Regions from separate parts of the Homo sapiens genome. Here region 1 is linked to region 2. The links come from fine-mapping of genetic effects on gene expression. A gene starts in region 2. The other region holds a variant in brackets. All regions are shown on one strand. Distances are between the middles of the regions.

The links. PIP is the estimated chance that this variant, and not a neighbour inherited with it, causes the effect. A credible set is the group of variants that fine-mapping cannot tell apart.
Region 1: its variant is the best candidate, but not a certain one, in a credible set for the expression of SLC18B1 in esophagus muscle (GTEx, PIP 0.52).

What each region holds. Positions count from the first base shown.
Region 1 is chr6:132,584,889-132,595,205 of GRCh38, reverse strand. It overlaps TAAR5 (trace amine associated receptor 5), which reads left to right and starts at 5,465. Exons shown (of 1, transcript NM_003967.3): 1 at 5,465-6,614. The coding sequence starts at 5,520. The coding sequence ends at 6,533. It also overlaps the pseudogene TAAR4P. The variant A/G (reference allele first, on the strand shown) is at 5,110.
Region 2 is chr6:132,793,468-132,803,784 of GRCh38, reverse strand. It overlaps SLC18B1 (solute carrier family 18 member B1), which reads left to right and starts at 5,148. Exons shown (of 14, transcript NM_052831.3): 1 at 5,148-5,371; 2 at 6,664-6,803. The coding sequence starts at 5,329. RefSeq lists a silencer at 5,081-5,130 and an enhancer at 6,362-6,862.

The sequences.
Region 1 (10,317 bases), 210 kb after region 2:
ACTGACTTTTTGCTGAGCTGTGTGGTCATGCCCTTCAGTGTGATCACATCCATCGAGTCCTGCTGGTATTTTGGAGACCTCTTTTGCAAAGTCCACAGCTGCTGTGACATCATACTCTGCACCACCTCCATTTTTCACCTCTGCTTCATCTCAGTTGACCGTTACGATGCTGTTTGAGACCCATTGCAATATGTCACCAGAATTACCATCCCTGTCATAGAACTCTTTCTACTCATCAGTTGGTCCATTCCCATCCTTTTTGCCTTTGGCCTGGTATTCTCAAAACTAAACATAATTGGTGCAGAAGAGTTTGTTGCAGCCATTGATTGCACAGGTTTGTGTGTGTTAATATTTAATAAGCTCTGGGGGGGTACTGGCCTCCTTTATAGCTTTCTTTCTCCCAGGGACAACCACGGTGGGAATTTACATACATATTTTTACAGTAGCCAGGAAGCATGCCATGCAAATTGGCACAGGTTCTAGGACTAAACAGGCTGGGTCAGAAAGCAAAAAAAAAGGCATCCTCTAAAACAGAAAGCAAGGCCACCAGGACCTTAGGCATAGTCATGGGAGTGTTTGTGTTGTGCTGGCTGCCCTTCTTTGTCTTGACGATCACAGATCCTTTCATTAATTTTACAACCCTTGAAGATCTGTACAATGTCTTCCTCTGGCTAGGCTATTTCAACTCTGCTTTCAATCCCATTTTATATGGCATGCTTTATCCTTGGTTTCGCAAGGCATTGAGGATGATTGTCACAGGCATGATCTTCCACCCTGACTCTTCCACCCTAAGCCTGTTTTCTGCCCATGCTTAGGCTGTGTTCATCATTCAATAGGACTCTTTTCTGGTGGGGAATCTTGGATGCCCTTTCTCCACACAAGTAGGGGCATGAATTGACCAGATAAGGAGATCCTTCCAGTTGGCGTAGTGAACATCTAGGTAGGAGTTATAGATGAGCCTTCCAGGTATACTAAAGCTACCAAAGCGGTCCATTTCTGGGCTTTGGGGAAAGACAACTCCAATAAAAAGAATCTCTCCCAAGTCTTACTGACTCCTGAGATTCCAAATTAGGGATCTAGAATTTTAGTCTTTTGGCTTAAATCATATAGAGATTTTCTTACTTTAACTTGAAAACATCAGATGCAAAAGCAAAGTTGGTTTCCACAATCATTGACAGCCATGTATATCTGAGTTTATCTAAATCTTTCTTGAGATTGTTGTTGCTTGTTAGGGAAGTGGGAGAGAGCCTGGGCATACAGGAAGTCTGAGTTATGGAGCATGCTAGTGATGCGGAAAGGGAGAAAGACACAGACAGTTGTAGTTACTTCCAATTGTAATGATTTTGGCTGAAACCCCTTTTCAGAAAGAACTGATGTGAGATTTGCAATATTTGATAAAATTGGACTGTCTTACTAAATGAGAAAAATGAATAAAGAGTTTGGGAAAATATGCTTTCTTTCTCCCAATATACACTTTAGATCCATGTATGTATGCAGCCTGTGTGTACACATAGTGGGGATGCGTCCATGTCTTTCATGTGTGTACATATATTCATTATCCTCCCAGACTGAACTTTACAAGGGTGTCCACAAACATTAGCTCAATAGTTTTTCAAAACAGCTCCAAATGCTCTTCCTAGGCTAGGCCAAGGAGAGTGAAGCAGCCATTTTCATTCCTAAACCAAATCTCCTCTTCCCAGGACTCATCTAAGCTGAGCAGAGTAACCATTATCTCAGGGGGAATGGTAATTTCCATGATACTTGCTGTCTGTATTAAAAGTCACTCGGTTCAACGAACATTTATTGAGCACCTACTATGTGCCAAGTGTTGCTCTGATTGTGGTTCAGAGATAAATAAAACTCAAACCCTGGCCTCAAGGGAATTTTGACTTCATAGGAGGGACCATAGCCACTCAGTTACACTACAGGGTAATATGTGTTGTGACAGAGCCAGGCACAAGAGGCCATGAGAGCATGGCAGAGGAAAATTTAGCCTGACATGGGGTTGTGGAGAGACTGCCTGCATTTTTGACCAAAGACTGTAGCATCAGGTTTTGTAAGGGAACCAGAGCCTCTATTAGAGTCAAGGGAAAGCTGGGGAAGTGGAGTTAGAGCATCAGAGAAGGGGTCACTAAGCCAACTTCCTGAAGATCGGCATGAGGAAGCAAGTTTGAGCAAGTACTTTCACCCACTGAAGTGAAATTGCAAAGACAGGGCATATGGCAAAGTCTGTGGTAAGCTGTTGCCCCTGGGTAGCTACTGTTCTGTGGTCCTTACCCAGGAATTCAGTGGTAGATCTGGGACCACTGTTGCTTAGCAATGTCAGCAGAGAGGAAGAAGAGCCGGGTGCAGAGTAGAGCTAGGCCAAGTGTAACTTATAAATAAGAACTTATAAATAAGAAGTTAACTGGCTTATGGTTCTGCAGGCTGTACAGGAAGAATGGCTGGGGAGGCCTCAGGGAATTTACAATTATGGCAGAAGGCAAAGGGAAAGCAGGCACATCTTACATGGCTGAAGCAGGAGGAAGAGGCAGAAGGGAGGTGCTACACACTTGTAAACAACTAGATCTCATGATAACTCATTCACTATCAAAAGAACAGCACCAAAGGGGAAATCTACCCCCATGATCCAAGCACCTCCCACCAGGCCCCACCTCCAACACTGAGGATTACAATTTGACATGAGATTTACACGGGGACACAGACCCAAATCATATCAGACAGATTTTGAGGAATCAAGAATTATTCTGTCCTATGTGCTCTCAAAGGCAGGCAAAGACCGTCCATAGACAACAGGCTATAGAAAGAGAATCTCTGAACCTGAGTGAAGTCTGCCAGTTTGAGCTTGTACTAAGAACACTTCCATCTGGCTTCATAATTTCAGGTTATCATAATTAGCACAGCCTCATTATAATCGATTTTGTTAAAGTTGGCGGTAATTTGAAAACAAATTTGGTTTCTAGTAAGTAAAGTGCAGAGGAGGCTACACATGATGCAGCGGGGAGATTTAAAAGAAATAAAAATGTTCTTTTATTCAAGACCTTTAGCAGCTTGCTGCAACATTAATGAATCCCTAAGGTAAGCAGGAAACCTTAGTAGATCCAGAATCCAATTACTTTTGCCTGTGATTGTTATGTAATGGAATGTATTTCTAAAAGTCAGTGGAAGAAGGGATAAGAGCCCTAACTTGGGAAGGTTAACAGTTATCTGCACTAGATATCCACTCGAACTCTTGTCTGCCCAACTCAACTTTCTACATGCCAGAGACTGCACTTTATGAATTTTAACTCATTAATATTCACAAGATTGTGACACAGATCATGTATTATATTCAATTAATAGATGAGAAAACTGGACACAGTGGTGTTAAGTAATCTGAGACATAGAGATCATACAATTGTGTTACATATTACATTTTAGTAGGTCTGATGTAATCTATCCCAGAACAGAAAACCTTTCCCTGTTTCTTCTTCAGCCTTATTCCAGCTACAGGACATTTGTTTGTATTTTTCACAAGTTCTTGGTCAAATTAAATATAAAGCCATAGGACTCCTTGGCCAATTATATGTGGATTATGACTTTTAAGCTAAAGGGGTTTCAAGGTACCTAGTAATGCAATATCCTTCCTTGTGTCTGATTAAGTTCTGGAGCCAGATATGTATTTCCACACATATGAAGCTGGCATAAGGCAAGATTCCAGCGGTAGCCAGGCTATAGGGAGCTTTGCCTTGGGAAACACTGGGTTTAGCCATGGATTTGTAGAGAAAGGAGAGGTGCATACCAACCTCCTTCCTTCTTTTTGACCTGCCCCACCTCCTCTTCCAGGCCCCTCTGGCAGATGTAATTTGGTGTCACCTCTAGAATTCTGTCATTTTTACAACTTTAGTTTGACTGATACTGTGAAATGGTTTCTCTGTAACCATAAAGAGGCATACCAGCTTCTAAGATATCAAGAGGCAGAGAGCAGAATACGATTCAACATGTTATTTACCTTGATAATATCCCTGTGAAATCAAGTTACACAGGTATAATTGTACCTACTCTTACCAATGGGGAAGCAGAGAGAGAGGTTAGGTATGGCATAAGAAAGGATGAAACAGGAATTTAACTATTCTTCCTCCAGGTGAACTGCTTCATCTACCATGCTTTCTTTCACCATCACAAAATATAGTGCTCAAAAAACACATAATGATGAATCCTGTGTGGAAGTCACAAACCACCCCTTCATGAACCAAAAAACCCATGATCAATTATTCTCAACTATTTCTCATGTTGAGAGAAATATACACAAATAATACTAAAGCAGAAGAAAAATAAGAAACTCACTAAAAATGAAATTAGAAAATATATAGCAGCCATTAGCAGGCAAGAATACCTTCAAAACATCCCAGAACTGAAAAATTAAAAAAGAATATATACATCCACCGTCTTTAAATTTTATCTCTAATTAATTGTCAGGGTAAGTGATTCTGTATTGAGGAGGAACCTTAAACAACTGAGACTTGCAAATAGTGCAAACTAGGTCCCATGGTGCCTCTTCACAGCTTATTTGTATCATAGCACATGGAGGAGTAGTTTCTATTGAGAGTATAAAATCGTTAACTAATTGCACACCTGTCATTGTGGCCAACAGAAGAGTACTCTGACATTCCCTGTGTCCACCTGCTCCAAGAAACATTTTTTCCCAGGAAGGGATTCTGATTCCTACCTGTGTAAGTAACTTAGAAACTCTGAATTCAATATATTAGGACTTGGTTAATAATTCACAGACTTACATTAAGATGTTAAATAGATAAAATCATTTTGCCTATCAAATAGTTATACCAAGATGTGTAAACACTTTGTGTTATCATCATAAAATGTGCAGCATTTAAAGCTAAAATAGAGCAATTTTCTACTCTTTTAATTATTAATATTTGCATGCTGAATTCTTCTCTTGGGAAGAGTTGGCATGTAGCTAAAAATCTTAATCTGCTAACTTTATTGTCAATGTATGTAATTCTTAAAGAGAGAAGCTAGAAGTTACACTTTTTCCAAGGAATAATTTATTAACAAGAATTAATTGGTCACTTGGTTCAGATCTTTGCTTTAAATTTCACTTTACATTTG[A/G]CAAAAAATACCTTATCAAAACGTAAGAGACATTCTCTATTATTTAATACTACCTATGGATATAATCAAGCTTTCTTTGAGGAAACATTCAGCTTACATCCTTCTTTTCTTTCTTTAAGAATACTACCTACACTAGTTTTAAAGTGCCTAGTCATATAAACTAGAGCTAGCAGAAGTAACTCTCATGAAACCTTGAATACTATGCTGCATTTGATTTTCAGGGCACATTTGATTCAGTACCCAGGGGCACTGTACTATGTTCCAAACTGTACTTTAGTTTCTTCCTCTTCGTTTCACTCTGTGATTATTTAGCAGACATATTTTTTTTTTTTTTTTTTTTTTTTTTTTTTTTTTGCCCTCCAGTGGAGAAGGTGGCCAGTTCTCAGACAGAGGAAGAGTAGAAATCATAAATGAGAGCTGTCTTCATCCAAGGTGCTGAAGAGCACCCTGCGGCATTCTGCTACCAGGTGAATGGGTCTTGCCCCAGGACAGTACATACTCTGGGCATCCAGTTGGTCATCTACCTGGCCTGTGCAGCAGGCATGCTGATTATCGTGCTAGGGAATGTATTTGTGGCATTTGCTGTGTCCTACTTCAAAGCGCTTCACACGCCCACCAACTTCCTGCTGCTCTCCCTGGCCCTGGCTGACATGTTTCTGGGTCTGCTGGTGCTGCCCCTCAGCACCATTCGCTCAGTGGAGAGCTGCTGGTTCTTCGGGGACTTCCTCTGCCGCCTGCACACCTACCTGGACACCCTCTTCTGCCTCACCTCCATCTTCCATCTCTGTTTCATTTCCATTGACCGCCACTGTGCCATCTGTGACCCCCTGCTCTATCCCTCCAAGTTCACAGTGAGGGTGGCTCTCAGGTACATCCTGGCAGGATGGGGGGTGCCCGCAGCATACACTTCGTTATTCCTCTACACAGATGTGGTAGAGACAAGGCTCAGCCAGTGGCTGGAAGAGATGCCTTGTGTGGGCAGTTGCCAGCTGCTGCTCAATAAATTTTGGGGCTGGTTAAACTTCCCTTTGTTCTTTGTCCCCTGCCTCATTATGATCAGCTTGTATGTGAAGATCTTTGTGGTTGCTACCAGACAGGCTCAGCAGATTACCACATTGAGCAAAAGCCTGGCTGGGGCTGCCAAGCATGAGAGAAAAGCTGCCAAGACCCTGGGCATTGCTGTGGGCATATACCTCTTGTGCTGGCTGCCCTTCACCATAGACACGATGGTCGACAGCCTCCTTCACTTTATCACACCCCCACTGGTCTTTGACATCTTTATCTGGTTTGCTTACTTCAACTCAGCCTGCAACCCCATCATCTATGTCTTTTCCTACCAGTGGTTTCGGAAGGCACTGAAACTCACACTGAGCCAGAAGGTCTTCTCACCGCAGACACGCACTGTTGATTTGTACCAAGAATGATTCCTTCTACTAAATGCAGGCAAGGAGTAGGACCTCACAGGAAAGATAAGTGGCACTGTGACCGTGGGCTGTGTGGTGTTGAGTTTGTGGGCATGCTTCCAGGACAGCATGGGTTAAGTAGAAGAGAAAGACAAGCTCCTTAACTTGGAAAGGGATAAAGCACTCCCCACATTCAATGTTTTATATATATGTATGTATATACACGTATATATATATATACGTATATATATATTTATTATACTTTAAGTTCTAGGGTACATGTGCACAACGTGCAGGTTTGTTACATACGTATGCATGTGCCATGTTGGTGCACTGCACCCATTAACGTCATTTACATTAGGTATATCTCCTAATGCTATCCCTCCCCCCTCCCCCCACCCCACAACAGGCCGCGGTGTGTGATGTTCCCCTTCCTGTGTCCAAGTGTTCTCATTGTTCAATTCCCACCTATGAGTAAGAACATGCGGTGTTTCGTTTTTTGTCCTTGCGATAGTTTGCTGAGAATGATGGTTTCCAGCTTCATCCATGTCCCTACAAAGGACATGATCTCATCCTTTTTTATGGCTGCATAGTATTCCATGGTGTATATGTGCCACATTTTCTTAATCCAGTCTGTCATTGTTGGACATTTGGGTTGGTTCCAAGTCTTTGCTCTTGTGAATAGTGCTGCAATAAACATACGTGTGCATGTGTCTTTGTAGCAGCATGATTTATATTCCTTTGGGTATATACCCAGTAATGGGATGGCTGAGTCAAATGGTATTTCTAGTTCTAGATCCCTGAGGAATCGCCACACTGACTTCCACAATGGTTGAACTAGTTTACAGTCCCACCAACAGTGTAAAAGTGTTATTTTTTATAGTACATTGGAGGAAAAGGAGAGCAAGAAATCATCTTAATATCCACTGGATAAGCCAGAACACTGTGCACATATTTGGTTCCTCATTCATTGCTTCCTTGAAACAACTAGGATGCAACAACGGAAGGAACAGAGCCCTGAGGTCTGGCTTTCTGAGTTCTCACACTGGTTCTGCCACACAGAGCAGCCAAGAGAGATTTCAGCAATCTTTGAATCCTCCCTCCTCCCACCACAGATGGGAGTTTCCTCATCTAAAATAAGGTGTTTGTAATATTTCCTTTCTACTGTGTTCTTAAGTGAAATATGGCATAATCTAACTTCAGGAAACCTAGTTTGAATCATAATTTCGCTTCATATTTCATAATCATAATCAATTGTTTAGAATGTCTCTTCCTCAAAATGTTCATTTTAGAAACCTCGTCTCCTAAAAACCCAAGCACTAAGCAGATTTGTCATCCAGGTTTGTCCATTGTGATAATCACTGAGTAAAAGCATCATATTCTTGAAGGAATGTTTTTTCTTATCTTTTTGAATAATTTAAACCTGAACATAGTTGGAATATTTTGTTAAGTGATAATTATCCACATCTTTCCGTTTTATTATTTCTTTCTTTAAATTTTTCTCACACAAGTTAGACCGGCTATCTTTCCAGGAACACCAGTACATGTTTTTGTTTTTGTTTTTGCTTTTTATAAAAACAAGTCCCCATGCCACGTGCTTGCTCGGAATTGAACCAAATGTTTCTCAGCAGCAATTACTAGTAAGGGCACTAGCACCTTTATGTACAGCCTGCCTGTCTTCTCCTGAATATTTTCCTAAAGCCTCTAATCACCATTCCTTTATATTTATTACTGAGATTTTTTCAAATTAATAATTGCTTACTTGAAAAACTTCTTTATAAATTAGTTCAAAGCCTCAAAGCCTCTCCACTACAGGTGCACAGATAGCTGTAGCTATAGATGCAGATACAGGTGTATCAATCTCAATAGGTAAACTTAGACAATGAAGGAGGGAATGTGTTTCAAGAGCAATTCATATGCCAATAGTCAGATAAGTAGACGTTAAACAAATACTTAAAACAATCATTCACATGTCAATAATAATCACTAAAGGAGTGGCCGGGCGCGGTGGCTCACGCCTTTAATCCCAGCACTTTGGGAGGCCAAGGCGGACGGATCACCTGAGGTCAGGAGTTCAAGACCAGCCTGATCAACATGGAGAAACCCTGTCTCTACTAAAAATACAAAATTTGCTGGGCGTGGTGGCACATGCTTGTAATCCCAGCTACTCGGGAGGCTGAGGCAGGAGAACCGCTTGAACCCGGGAGGCAGAGGTTGTGGTGAGCCAAGATTGTGCCATTGCACTCCAGCCTGGGCAAAAAGAGTGAAACTCTGTCTCAAAGTGATAATAATAATAATAATGGTAATAATAATAATAATAATTGAAGGAGTAAATATCTTATTTTGTCAATGAAGTTAGCTAAAATGGGTTTATTCTGTTTATTTATATATAGATATATGGAGAGAGAGAGAAGTGCTATTAACCCCAAACTTTCCTCCTTATTTAAAAATAATTGTTGTAAAAATATTTTTCCACGTATTCTTTAGTGCTTCATTTTTCTTTGGAATTAATTATAGTTTATTTTTTGTTAACTCTTAGGCATTATTAAATAATTAAATTACAGATGAATTATAAACTAAAACTTATCCTAGTATATATAGTTTTGAGTTATTAAGAAGCTAGAAATACTATGCCTTTTGTATAACAATAAATATAATTTGCAACCTATAAGTGAGTCATTACTTTAAAAAGCATATTTTTCTCTTGCCTTTCTAGAAATAAGCCACCCCATTCCCAATCAACTGAGCATAGCAGTCTCCATCTTGGAAGTAAAAGATCCGGCTGCTTCACAAGGTGGAGCTCTGAACTAGTCACTTCAACAGAAGCAAGAAATGATTCTGCTTCTTGCACATATTATTGTTTCCTGTTAGGTGGAGAAGGCTGCCTTAGCCAGATAGGCCCTCAATGAAGAGAAGGGAAGGAGCTAACAGTTACTGAGAACCTATGATGTTCTGCATCTCACTTAATGCCTATAAACCTGTGAGGTGGATATTATTACCCTTACAGGGCACACAGATGAGGCACGCAAAGATCTGGTAATTTACCTTGGCATCCTTACTTGAAAATTCTTAATCTATCTTCTTACTTGAAAGCTGTTAACCTATCTACTATTTCTCTGAAATATTAGGGAAATCTGGACAGCTAATAAATCTGTGAATAGGACTAACACTGAAAACCAGATAGGAGACTCCAGTTTCCAGTGAATCACAGAAACACAAGGACATGTGTGTCATGATACAATGTTTGCATCACCAAAGAACCAGGGGAGAATGAGAAAAAGAATCGCACCTTCAGTGGACACCACAAACGGAAGCATGAGCTGATGGTTGGAGAGGGGAGGCACCCGACCCCAGGATTTGAAGCCCAGCTCTTTCATCCTCTTCGTTAGGAGAACAGAATGTAAGAAGCAAATCTGTTGCCCCCAGAAAATTGGGTTAGGCCCTTGGACAAATGAAAGCATATACTCAATGACATTCTCTTGAGATCTTAGTAGAATGTCTGTGGTGATAATAACCCTTACTCGCTCTCCCTAGTTGAGTGAGAGTTAACCACATGTAAGGCAAGTGTTATCGATTTTTTGTGCCATGGACGTTTTTGACACTCTAGTAAAGACCACAGACCCCTACTCATGATGAAAACTTTTGAGGGAATAAAGTTTTTTTAAAAAAACATGGAATTATAAAGAAAAACAATTGTTAAAATATAATTATATAACTATCTTAGAAATAGTCAAATTTGTAATATAATCATACATGTGCTTCTTTTTGAAAGCATCAGATAACAAGATCTGCTGACAGGTACAAT
Region 2 (10,317 bases):
GTAGCATCCTTAATCTTCTGAAAGGCACATGTGAAAAACCTACAGCTAACCTCATACTTTATAATGGAAGACCAAGTGTTTTTCTTGTAAGATTGGGAACAAAGTGAGGCTCTCCATTCTCACCACATTTATTCACCATTTTACTGGGCGTCCTAGTCAGTGCAATAAAATAAGTGAAAGAAACAAAAGCATACATTTCAGAAAGGAAGAAGTAAAACTCTATTCGCAGATGGCATAATTGTTTATGTAGAAAATCTAAAGGAATCTATACAACAATGACTAGAACTAATGAGGAAATTTAGCAAGATTGCAGGATACCAGATTAATATAAAAGTTCATTTACCTTTATATATAATCAGCAAATTGTTGGAAATTTAAACATAAAAATATCAATTTTAGTAGCTTCTAAAACTAAGGTATTTAGGAATAAATTTAACATGAGGCATATAATACCTACACGGTGAAAAATGTGAAAATGTTATGAAAGAAATATCTATATAATTGGAGAGATATACTATGTTCATGGATTAAAAGCTTAATAGTGATTCAATATCAGTTCTCTCCAAATTGATATATGGAGTAAAAAAAATACCAGTAAGAATTCCACCAGGTTGTTTGGAGAATATGAGAGCTAATTGTGATATTTCTCTAGAAAGTCAAAGTAACTAAAATATTCAAACCACTCTTGAAAAAGAAGAACGTACTTGGACACTTTTTACTGCCTGACTTCAAACACATTGGGTCTTGATATGCAATGGAAGCAAGTGAGTGGAAGAAGCTAGCACCACCTAAAATCTCTTCTGGTGAGAGTGGCAGCATTCTTGAGGAGTGGGGATGATGTTCTAATTACAGTGTCTCATACCTGGCTCCAGTGGTATTGGCAGCATGTGCTGGAGATGTACGTCCAGCAGGGTTGCAGTGCCATGCATACTGGACCGCTTAGGTGGTGTGACTTTAGGCACTTAGCCTCTAAGTGGTATGCATGATCCTCCTGATGATACTATGTGTTACCTAATAATCAATGATGAATTCATTTTCTGCTTAAATTAGCCAACGTTGCTTTGTTTTTTATTAGCAACAGGGAACTCTGACTGATAGAAATGCCAGGAAGAAAAATAGAAAGGTGAAAGGACAAAGGAGGACTAGGGCTGTATTTGGATAAGGGCATAAGAATGAACTTCTTAGCCGGGCGCGGTGGATCACGCCTGTAATCCCAGCACTTTGGGAGGCCGAGGCGGGAGGATCACCTGAGGTTGAGAGTTTGAGACCAGGCTGACCAACATGGAGAAACCCTGTCTCTACTAAAAATACAAAATTAACTGGGCATGGTGGCGCATGCCTGTAGTCCCAGCTACTCAGGAAGCTGAGGCAAGAGAATCGCTTGAACCTAGGAGGTGGAGGTTGTGGTGAGCCAAGATAGCACTATTGTGCTCCAGCCTGGGCAACAAGAGTGAAACTCCATCTCAAAAAAAAAAAAAAAAAAAAAAATGAATGAATTTCTTGGCCAGGTATGGTGGCTTACGGCAGTAATCCCAGCACTTTGGGGAACCAGGGCAGATGGATTGCTTGAGTCCAGGAGATTGACACCAGCCTGGGCAACATGGTGAAACCTCATCTCTATTATTAAATAAATAAATAATAAAAAAGAATGAATTTCTCTGAGGAGGTGGCATTTAAACAAAGACCATATTACTCCATTTTAGTTTGTAAAGAAACAAATATTCCATATGTGTATGAATGTCTAAATGAGCATATCAAACTATGAATAGATAATTGTGGTAGGCTGATAATGGATTCCAAAGATACGTCCACATCCTAATCCCTGGAACCTGTAAATGTTACCTTATATGAAAAAAAGGGTCTGTGCAGATGTGACTAAATTGGAGAACTTGAGATGAAGAGGTCATCCTGGATTATCCAGGTGGGCCCTAAATTCATTCAAAATATCCTTACAAGAGACTGGCAAACGAAGATTACACACAGAAAAGAAGAGGCACAGTGATCACAGAAACAGAGACTACAGTGATGTGGCACAAAATGCCAATAGTCACTAGAAGCTTCAAGGGGCAAGAAACAGACTCTTCCCTAGAGCTTCTAGAGGGAACATGATCCTGCTGACACCTTGATTTTGGCTCAGTGAAACTGATGTTGAACTTCTGGCTTTGAGGACCTTGTTTTAAGCTATCAAATTTGTGTTGATTTGTACAGCAGCCCCAGAAAACTAACACAATAATATATTTGATTATAAAACTGATTATCTGAAGGGAGAATGAGAGGTAGAGATTACAAGAGGAGCGGAGGATAGGGATATGAATAGACTTTATGTAAATTAAAAGTAGATGGACACATAAGAACATAGATTTTTTTGAGAACATAAAGAACAAGATTTGCATTAAACATGCAAGAATTATTGCAAATGGGGAGAGGAATGAGAATGGAGATACAAGGAAATAGATGGCAACAGAAATGAAACATTCAATTGGCAAGATACAGTTGGCAAGATTCAGTTGGCAAAAATTCAGATGGCAAGATACAGTTAGGGATACTTCCTATAACATGGAGGAAAAAAAAAGAAAAAATAATAACTAGCCAGGTGTGGTGGCACAGGCCTATAGTCCCACCTACTCGGGAGGCTGAGGTGGGAGGATCAGTTGAGCTCAGGAATTTGAGGTTGCAGTGAGCCATTATATGTCATGGTAGCTTGGGAAACAGAGTGAGACCCTGTCTAAAAAAAATAAAATAAAATAAAAGAGAGAAGAAAAAGAGAAATAAGTAAAAGGACCAGTTTGGGTGACCCAACATTCACATAAAGTGCAGTCCAGAAAGAAAATAAAAGAGGAAATGTAATCATCAAAGAAATCATTCAAGAAAATTTCCCTCTACAGATTGATGTTAGATTGAAGAGAAAGCATAGAGTTAAATGAGATTGGAGAAGCTGTCAGGGGTTAGATCATAAAGATTTCATAAGGCTACTTTAGGGAAACTTTGCTAGATTGGAACTTTCTTTTCTTTTCTTTTTTTTTTTTTTTTTTTTTTTTTGAGATGGAGTTTCACTCTTGTTGCCCAGGCTGGAGCACAATGGTGCTGTCTTGGCTCACCACAACCTCTGCCTCCTAGGTTCAAGCGATTCTCCTGCCTCAGCTTCCCGAGTAGCTGGGACTACAGGCATGCGCCACCATGCCCAGCTAATTTTGTATTTTTAGTAGAGACAGGGTTTCTCCATGTTGGTCAGCCTGGTCTCAAACTCTCGACCTCAGGTGATTTGCCTGCCTCGGCCTCCCAAAGTGCTAGGATTACAGGCGTGAGCCACAGCACCTGGCTTAGAGTGGAACTTTCTGTTCAGAGTGGTTCTCTAGGTTCTCCTTTACAACTTGCCCACTGGGGAATTTTTTTTTTTTTTTTTTTGAGATGGAGTCTCGCTCGGTTGCCCAGGCTGGAGTGCAATGGCATGATCTCTGCTCACTGCAACCTCCGAGTCCCAGGTTCAAGCGATTCTCCTGCCTCAGTCTCCTGAGTAGCTGGGTGCCATCATGCCCAGCTAATTTTTGTATTTTTGTAGAGACGGGGTTTCACCGTGTTGGTCAGGCAGGTCTCGAACTTCTGACCTCGTGACCCGCCCACCTCGGCCTCCCAAAGTGCTGGGATTACAGGCGTGAGCCACCGCGCCCGGCCCTCACTGGGGAGTTTTTACATAACCTTCAAGAACCAAGGTAACATCACTTCCTCAGGAAGTCATCCAGGACCCATTTGCCAAAGTAAATGGTTCTTCCAATATGTTTGTATACAACCGATTGCATTATAGTAGATTATTAATTAGTGTGAATTTCATCTGCTAGAAGGTGTGCTACTTGAGGGCAGAGTCTGGATGGGGCTCATTCCTCTTTAAATTCATAATGCCTGGCACAAAGTGGTAACTCAGTCTTTTGTTTTGCTTTGGCTTCAAAACAAGAATTTCCCAGTCCTTAAACTTTATTTATTTATTTGAGACAGAGTTTCGCTTTTTCACCCAGGCTGGAATGAGGTGGCACAGTAATTACAAACTTACTATCAGCCATACTGTGTACTGGAACTGACCTTGTACAGTGGATCTGAGGCAGATTCTCAGTCGATAAAGCTACCCTCACACAATTCTTTTGGATCTTGGCTCACTGTAACCTCCGCCTCCCAGGTTCAAACGATTCTCCTGCCTCAGCCTCCCTAGTAGCTGGGATTACAGGTGCCTGCCACCACGCCTGGCTGATTTTTTTGTATTTTTATAGTAGAGACAGGGTTTCACCATGTTGGCCGGGCTGGTCTAGAACTCCTGACCTCAGGTGAGCTGCCCACCTCGGCCTCCCAAACTGCTGGGATTACAGGCATGAGCCACCGTGTCCAGCCAGTCCTCGAGCTTTAACACTTCCCAAATAGTAAATACGGTGAAAATAAGTGAAACCTATTTTTTATGCAAGAAAACTGTGAGTGTGAGAGTAAGGTAGCAGCCATCATGTTCATGTGCTAACTACTAACACACTTTATCGCCAATGCTCACAGCCGCCCTACGAGATAAACATTATAATCTCAGTTGTACAGGTAGAGAAACTGACCTTGTCATCCAAAGTTACACACTGCCAGCAAGTGCCCTGGCTTGAATCCCTGGCACCTGCCTCCAGAGGTCGCACTCCTAGCCACTTCGCCATGCTTCCTCGATATTCATTAGTATTCTTGCAAATATTTTTCGACTCCAGGTGCTTCACATAGGTTAATTCATTTCCGGTTCAATAGTGTCTGGCTTCAGTAATTACGAACACTACCGCATTTACCCACTGTGAAAAATAATTCACTCTTTCAAAGTTCCTGTATAACCTAATTTTCTAATTCACTTTTGTGTCTTTCAGTTGAGGTACTCCCTGCCTTTTCTGTGTCTACATAAGCTTCCTTTCTTTCGTTTCGTAGGAATAAATTGAACTTATTTTAAGATTGAGGGGGGTACAGCTGTATGGAATATAGACTCATCTTTTTTCACTCTCTGTCACAGAATGAAAAAGGACACCATGATATAGCAGCTGAGGTGGTGGATTAAGATAATGAGGCGGGGGGGGGGCGCAAAACAAAAAAAAAAGGAGCCTTGCTCCACCCCTGCCCCGCCCCCGGCCTCCTCCCGGGGACCCAGAGTCCTGGAAGGCTTTGGGGAGCTCCGGGCCGGGCGGATCGCTGCCTGCAGGGAGTCGGGGATGCCAGGTTCCAGCTGAGCAGCGGCCGCCCGCCAGAGTGCCAGTGGCTCCTTGGAGGTCGAGTCCAAGGACGTGGCTTGAAGCCGGGAGCTGGGGCGCCGGAGTCCACGCACCGGGGATGGAGGCGCTGGGTGACCTGGAGGGACCACGCGCACCAGGAGGTGACCATGAATTGCGTGGCCGGGAGCCCGGAGACCAGCGGCGGCTTCCGGCGTGTCTCTTTAGCAACGATTGAATTGCTTATAGCTTGATCTGTTTCCGAGAGATTGGAAAAGGCTGGGGCCTGATCGTGGGGTTCGGGCCAGCGTTTCTTTTCTCTCTGGACGGGGTAAAGTTCCAGGATTGGATATGTGTCACGGTTTCTAATGACTTTCTAACCTATACCTCTGCTTTTTAAGTACTGTGTGTTTAATGCATTCAAATAAGTATGCCATTAGGCAAATGTAAAACGTTACCTTTCAAGTACCCATTGTTGTTGCCTTTCTTTTTAACTTTCATTTCCCTTTCTCATCTACTACAAACATTTTACAAAGATTCGTAAGACTTCCTCATGTTGCACTGATTTTTTTTTTCCTTCTGGACTGCAATGGCAACCTCTGACAAATAGAGCAAAGCAAATGTATTTCTCTTAAGTTTTTCCTAAAAACAATTTAATTTATAAATGGCTGATGGATTTGCTTGGATATTTGGAACTCAGTAATTGATTTCGTGTTTTTAAATGACAATTTAGCCCTGGAAATAAGTGTTAAATTAACTGATGTAAAAGACCAGTAATTAGGGTAAAAAAAAAGTATTTATTTATGAATTTGTGGGACTTGTCTATCCAGAAGCATACCGCTGTAAATATTAATTCACCAGCTGAATGATTTAGCTTGTTTTCTCCTACTTACACTTCATTTGACTTCAATACTGCCTTAGAAATCTTTGTTTTTTGTTTTTGTTTTTGTTTTTGTTTGTTTGTTTTGTTTTGCTTTTTTGAGACGGAGTCTCTCTCTGTAGCCCAGGCTGGAGTGCAGTGGTGCGATCTTGGCTCACTGCAAGCTCCGCCTCCCGGGTTCACGCCATTCTCCTGCCTCAGCCTCCCGAGTAGCTGGGATACAGGGGCCCGCCACCACGCCCGGCTAATTTTTTGTATTTTTAGTAGAGACGGGGTTTCACCGTGTTAGCCAGGATGGTCTCGATCTCCTGACCTCGTGATCCGCCTGCCTCGGCCTCCCAAAGTTCTGGGATTACAGGCGTGAGCCACCGTGCCCAGCCGAAAGCAGTACGTTTTCAAAACGGCAGTAATGTACAAGGATTGTGTTCCATTTGATCAAATGTGCTATATTCAAAATAGCCCTAAGCTTAGCAAATGATATCTTCAGAGTGCAACATATGTGCACAGAAATCACATTTGTGTACTTTAATCAGTAGTCTCAATTATATGCCTAATTGCTGCATGTTTGCATTCAAGGTGATGATCCTGCAGGAAGTGCAGGAGAGACCCCCGGGTGGCTTTCGAGAGAACAGGTTTTTGTACTGATATCGGCAGCTTCGGTGAACTTAGGTTCCATGATGTGCTATTCTATACTTGGACCGTTTTTCCCCAAAGAGGTAAGACATTTTTAAATCCTTAGGACCTCTGTTTTTTTGTTTGTTTGTTTTTTAAAAGCCTTTTGAATTATTTTATTTTATAGTATATAAAATGTAAAAATCTGCATATAGGACAGATGGTGTATAGAACTCCAGCCAATAGAATACTTCTTATAGAATGCCTGATACCAGGAAAAAAAATCCAGTCAAAAAGAACATCTTCTTGGGAGGTAATTCACCTAAAAGTAGTTGATCTTCTGAGAATTACTTTTCTTACCATGTAGTCTGATTAATCTTTATTTGGTTTCTGCAACTGAAACAAAGGAGTGCACTGAATAACTGAGATTCAAATGTTACTGCAATAGGTCTGTGTTAAGACAGTAACTATTTTCTCGAGGTTTTATTCACATTTTAGAATTAGGACGTTTTGATTCCCGACCCCCCTTCCTTTTTTTTTTTTTTTTTTTTTTCCTTTCGAGACAGGGTTTCGCTCTTGTTGCCCAGGCTGGAGTGCAATGTTGTGATCTTGGCTCACTGCAACCTCTGCCTCCCGGGTTCAATTGATTCTCCTGCCTCAGCCTCCCGAGTAGCTGGGATTACAGGCGCCTACCACCACGTCCGGGTAATTTTTTTTTTTTTTTTTTTTTTGAGATGGAGTCTCGCACTCTCGCCCAGGCTGGAGTGCAGTGGCGCGATCTCGGCTCACTGCAAGCTCCGCCTCCTGAGTTCACGCCATTCTCCTGCCTCAGCCTCCCAAGTAGCTGGGACTACAGGTACCCGCCACTACGCCCAGCTAATTTTTTTTTTTGTATTGTTTTAGTAGAGACGGGGTTTCACCGTGTTAGCCAGGATGGTCTCCATCTCCTGACCTCATGATCTGCCCGCCTCCGCCTCCCGAAGTGCTGGGATTACAGGCGTGAGTCACCGTGCCCGGCCGAATTTTTGTATTTTTAGTAGAGACAGGTTTTTGCCATGTTGGGCAGTCTGGCTTCGATCTCCTGACCTCAGGTGATCTGCTTACCTTGGCCTCCCAAAGTGCTGGGATAACAGGCGTGAGCCACCACGCCCAGCCCCGGCCCCGCTCCATATTCCCTCTTTTGACTTTAATTTCTTATGGACTCTAGCGCCAATGTTTATGCAAGGGAGGAATTCTGATTAATAGGGCCTATTCCTTCTAGGCATAGCCTTTTATATGGTGTTAAGATTTATAGCTAATGACACAGATTCAAAGATAATAATCCCTAGAAAGTCCAACTGGATTCTAGACGTCAATAGGATATAGTATGAAATGAATATGACTGGCTTGGAGTGTAGACAACATATCCATGTGTTTTATTTTGTGCTTTTTGCCAAATCCTTGGCTCACAGTGCAGTGGAAGCTTGTTAGTCCTCCAACTGCCTTTTAAACATGTAGTCCTTCGTTCTGTGTGTTACAAAAGAAGATAAAGTGGCTTCTCTGCTAAAGGAACAATATTGCCATGTACCCATACAGTGCTCTCTGGCTTCTAGTACACATTACCCCTTATTTATCCATTTAATCCCCGCAACAACCTCATACAGAATCTTGAGAATCTCAGCATGTTGCAAATGAAGAAACGGTCTCAGAAGTTGTGACTTGCCCAATTCAGTTCTATTAACTAGAGGTTTAATGAGTCCCTTCTCTAGAGCAGGCTAAGCATGGGATGTGTTAGGGTAGTATAAAAAAATCAGGGAAATGGCTTTCTCTTGTCTGCCCTTTGGGAGTGAAAAAATATGGGAAAAAAAAGGTTCCAATAATTTGGATATCCCTTAAGAAAAGGATGTCCAGAATGTTATAAGACTGTTTTTTTTTTTCTTTTTTTAAATCATTTTCTTCTGGCTTCCCTCTATCCATACTAATGTTATGAGAGCCTAGAAAGAAGAATGGTTAATTCTGCCATACATGGAGTGTGGATAGCAGAAGAAAGGGCGTTACTGAAAGGAACTTTCAGGCTAAATCTAAGTTGGGGCTTTTTTTTTGAGACAGGGTTTCACTCTGTCATCGAGGCTGAAAGTACAGTGGCATGATCAGAGTTCACTGCTGCCTCAACTTCCCAGGCTCAAGAGATCCTTTCGCCTCAGCCCCCTGAGGAGCTGGGGCACAGGCATGTGCCACCACGCCTAGCTATTTTTTTCTATTTTTAGTAGAGATGGGGTTTCACCATGTTGCCCAGGCTGATGTTGAGCTCCTGAGCTCAAGCAATCCGTCCACCATGTTGGCCAGGCCTCTCAAATGCTGGGATTACAGGTGTGAGCCACCGCACCTGGCCTAAGGTGGGCCCTAAGAAGTGTTAATTCTTATGGTGAACAACAGAGATGGAGGTGTTCTAGGTATAGTCACAGGAAGAGCAGAGTGAATGGCATGTTCCTGGGGAACAACAGACAGCTTCTTGATGTGGCTTGAGCCTGGGGTGAAGTGAGGTCTAATAGGAGACAGTGGATCTGAGGAGGCAGGCCTAAGATAGAAAGGAAGGGCACTTGTCAAGGACTTAGTCAGTGGGCAGTCATCAGAGGTGTTTGAGCAAGAAAGAGCAGTCTGGCCAGACTTGGGATTTTTAAATAATAATAATAACAATAATAATGCCAGGCATGGTGGCTCACGCCTGTAATCCCAGCACTTTGGGAGGCTGAGGTGGGAGGATCACCTGAGGTCAGGAGTTTGAGACCAGCCTGGCCAACATGGTGAAACCCTGTCTGTACTAAAAATACAAAAATTAGCCAGGCATGGTGGCACGTGACTGTAGTCCCAGCTACTCAGGAGGCTGAGACAGGAGAATTGCTTGAACCCAGGAGGTGGAGGTTGCAGTGAGCCGAGATCGCCCCACTGCACTCTAGCCTGGGCAACAGAGTGAGACTCCATCTCAAAAAAAAAAAAAATTAAAAAAAAAATAATAAGAGCCTGTGGAATTGAGATGGAGAAGAATTGGAGTGAGTGAATCAACCAGTGAGAAGGGCATTTCCTAGCTCAGCTGGAACTCAGTGAGTGCAACTAATGTTAGTTTCCTCTAAGTGAATAGGGACAAAGGAAAACCATGCTGTGGGTGTGTGCTTTTTAAGTTTTTGATTGAGTTTTGTGCTTATAGGAAATGATGACCAAAGAAAAAAGTCAAGCTTTTAAAGAATTAAAGTTCATTTTATTCAGAAGTCTTACCGAGGACTATAGGCTGAGTATTTCAGTTCACAGTTCATGTACAGGTAGTAGAGACTCAGTACATGCACGGTCACATCAAAGTTTGGGTGTAAGAGTACATCTGGTTATAGATTATGAATGTACCTTTGGTAATAGTTTATAAACGCATAATCACAACCCTGTTAGATGTTATCTTATGTGTAGGAAAAGGCAAAGCTGGGGCATTTATCATTTAAGGAATGTAATAGCTCAGGCAAGAGATGTGGGGGACCATGTGCTCTATCCTGCTCTGTCTTCAACTCATCCCTCCCAAGAGTTGCATGTTGTCACAGAGTCAGGGGTTTTATGACATTATGCTGGCAAGCAGAAGTGAGCAAAATGTGACTT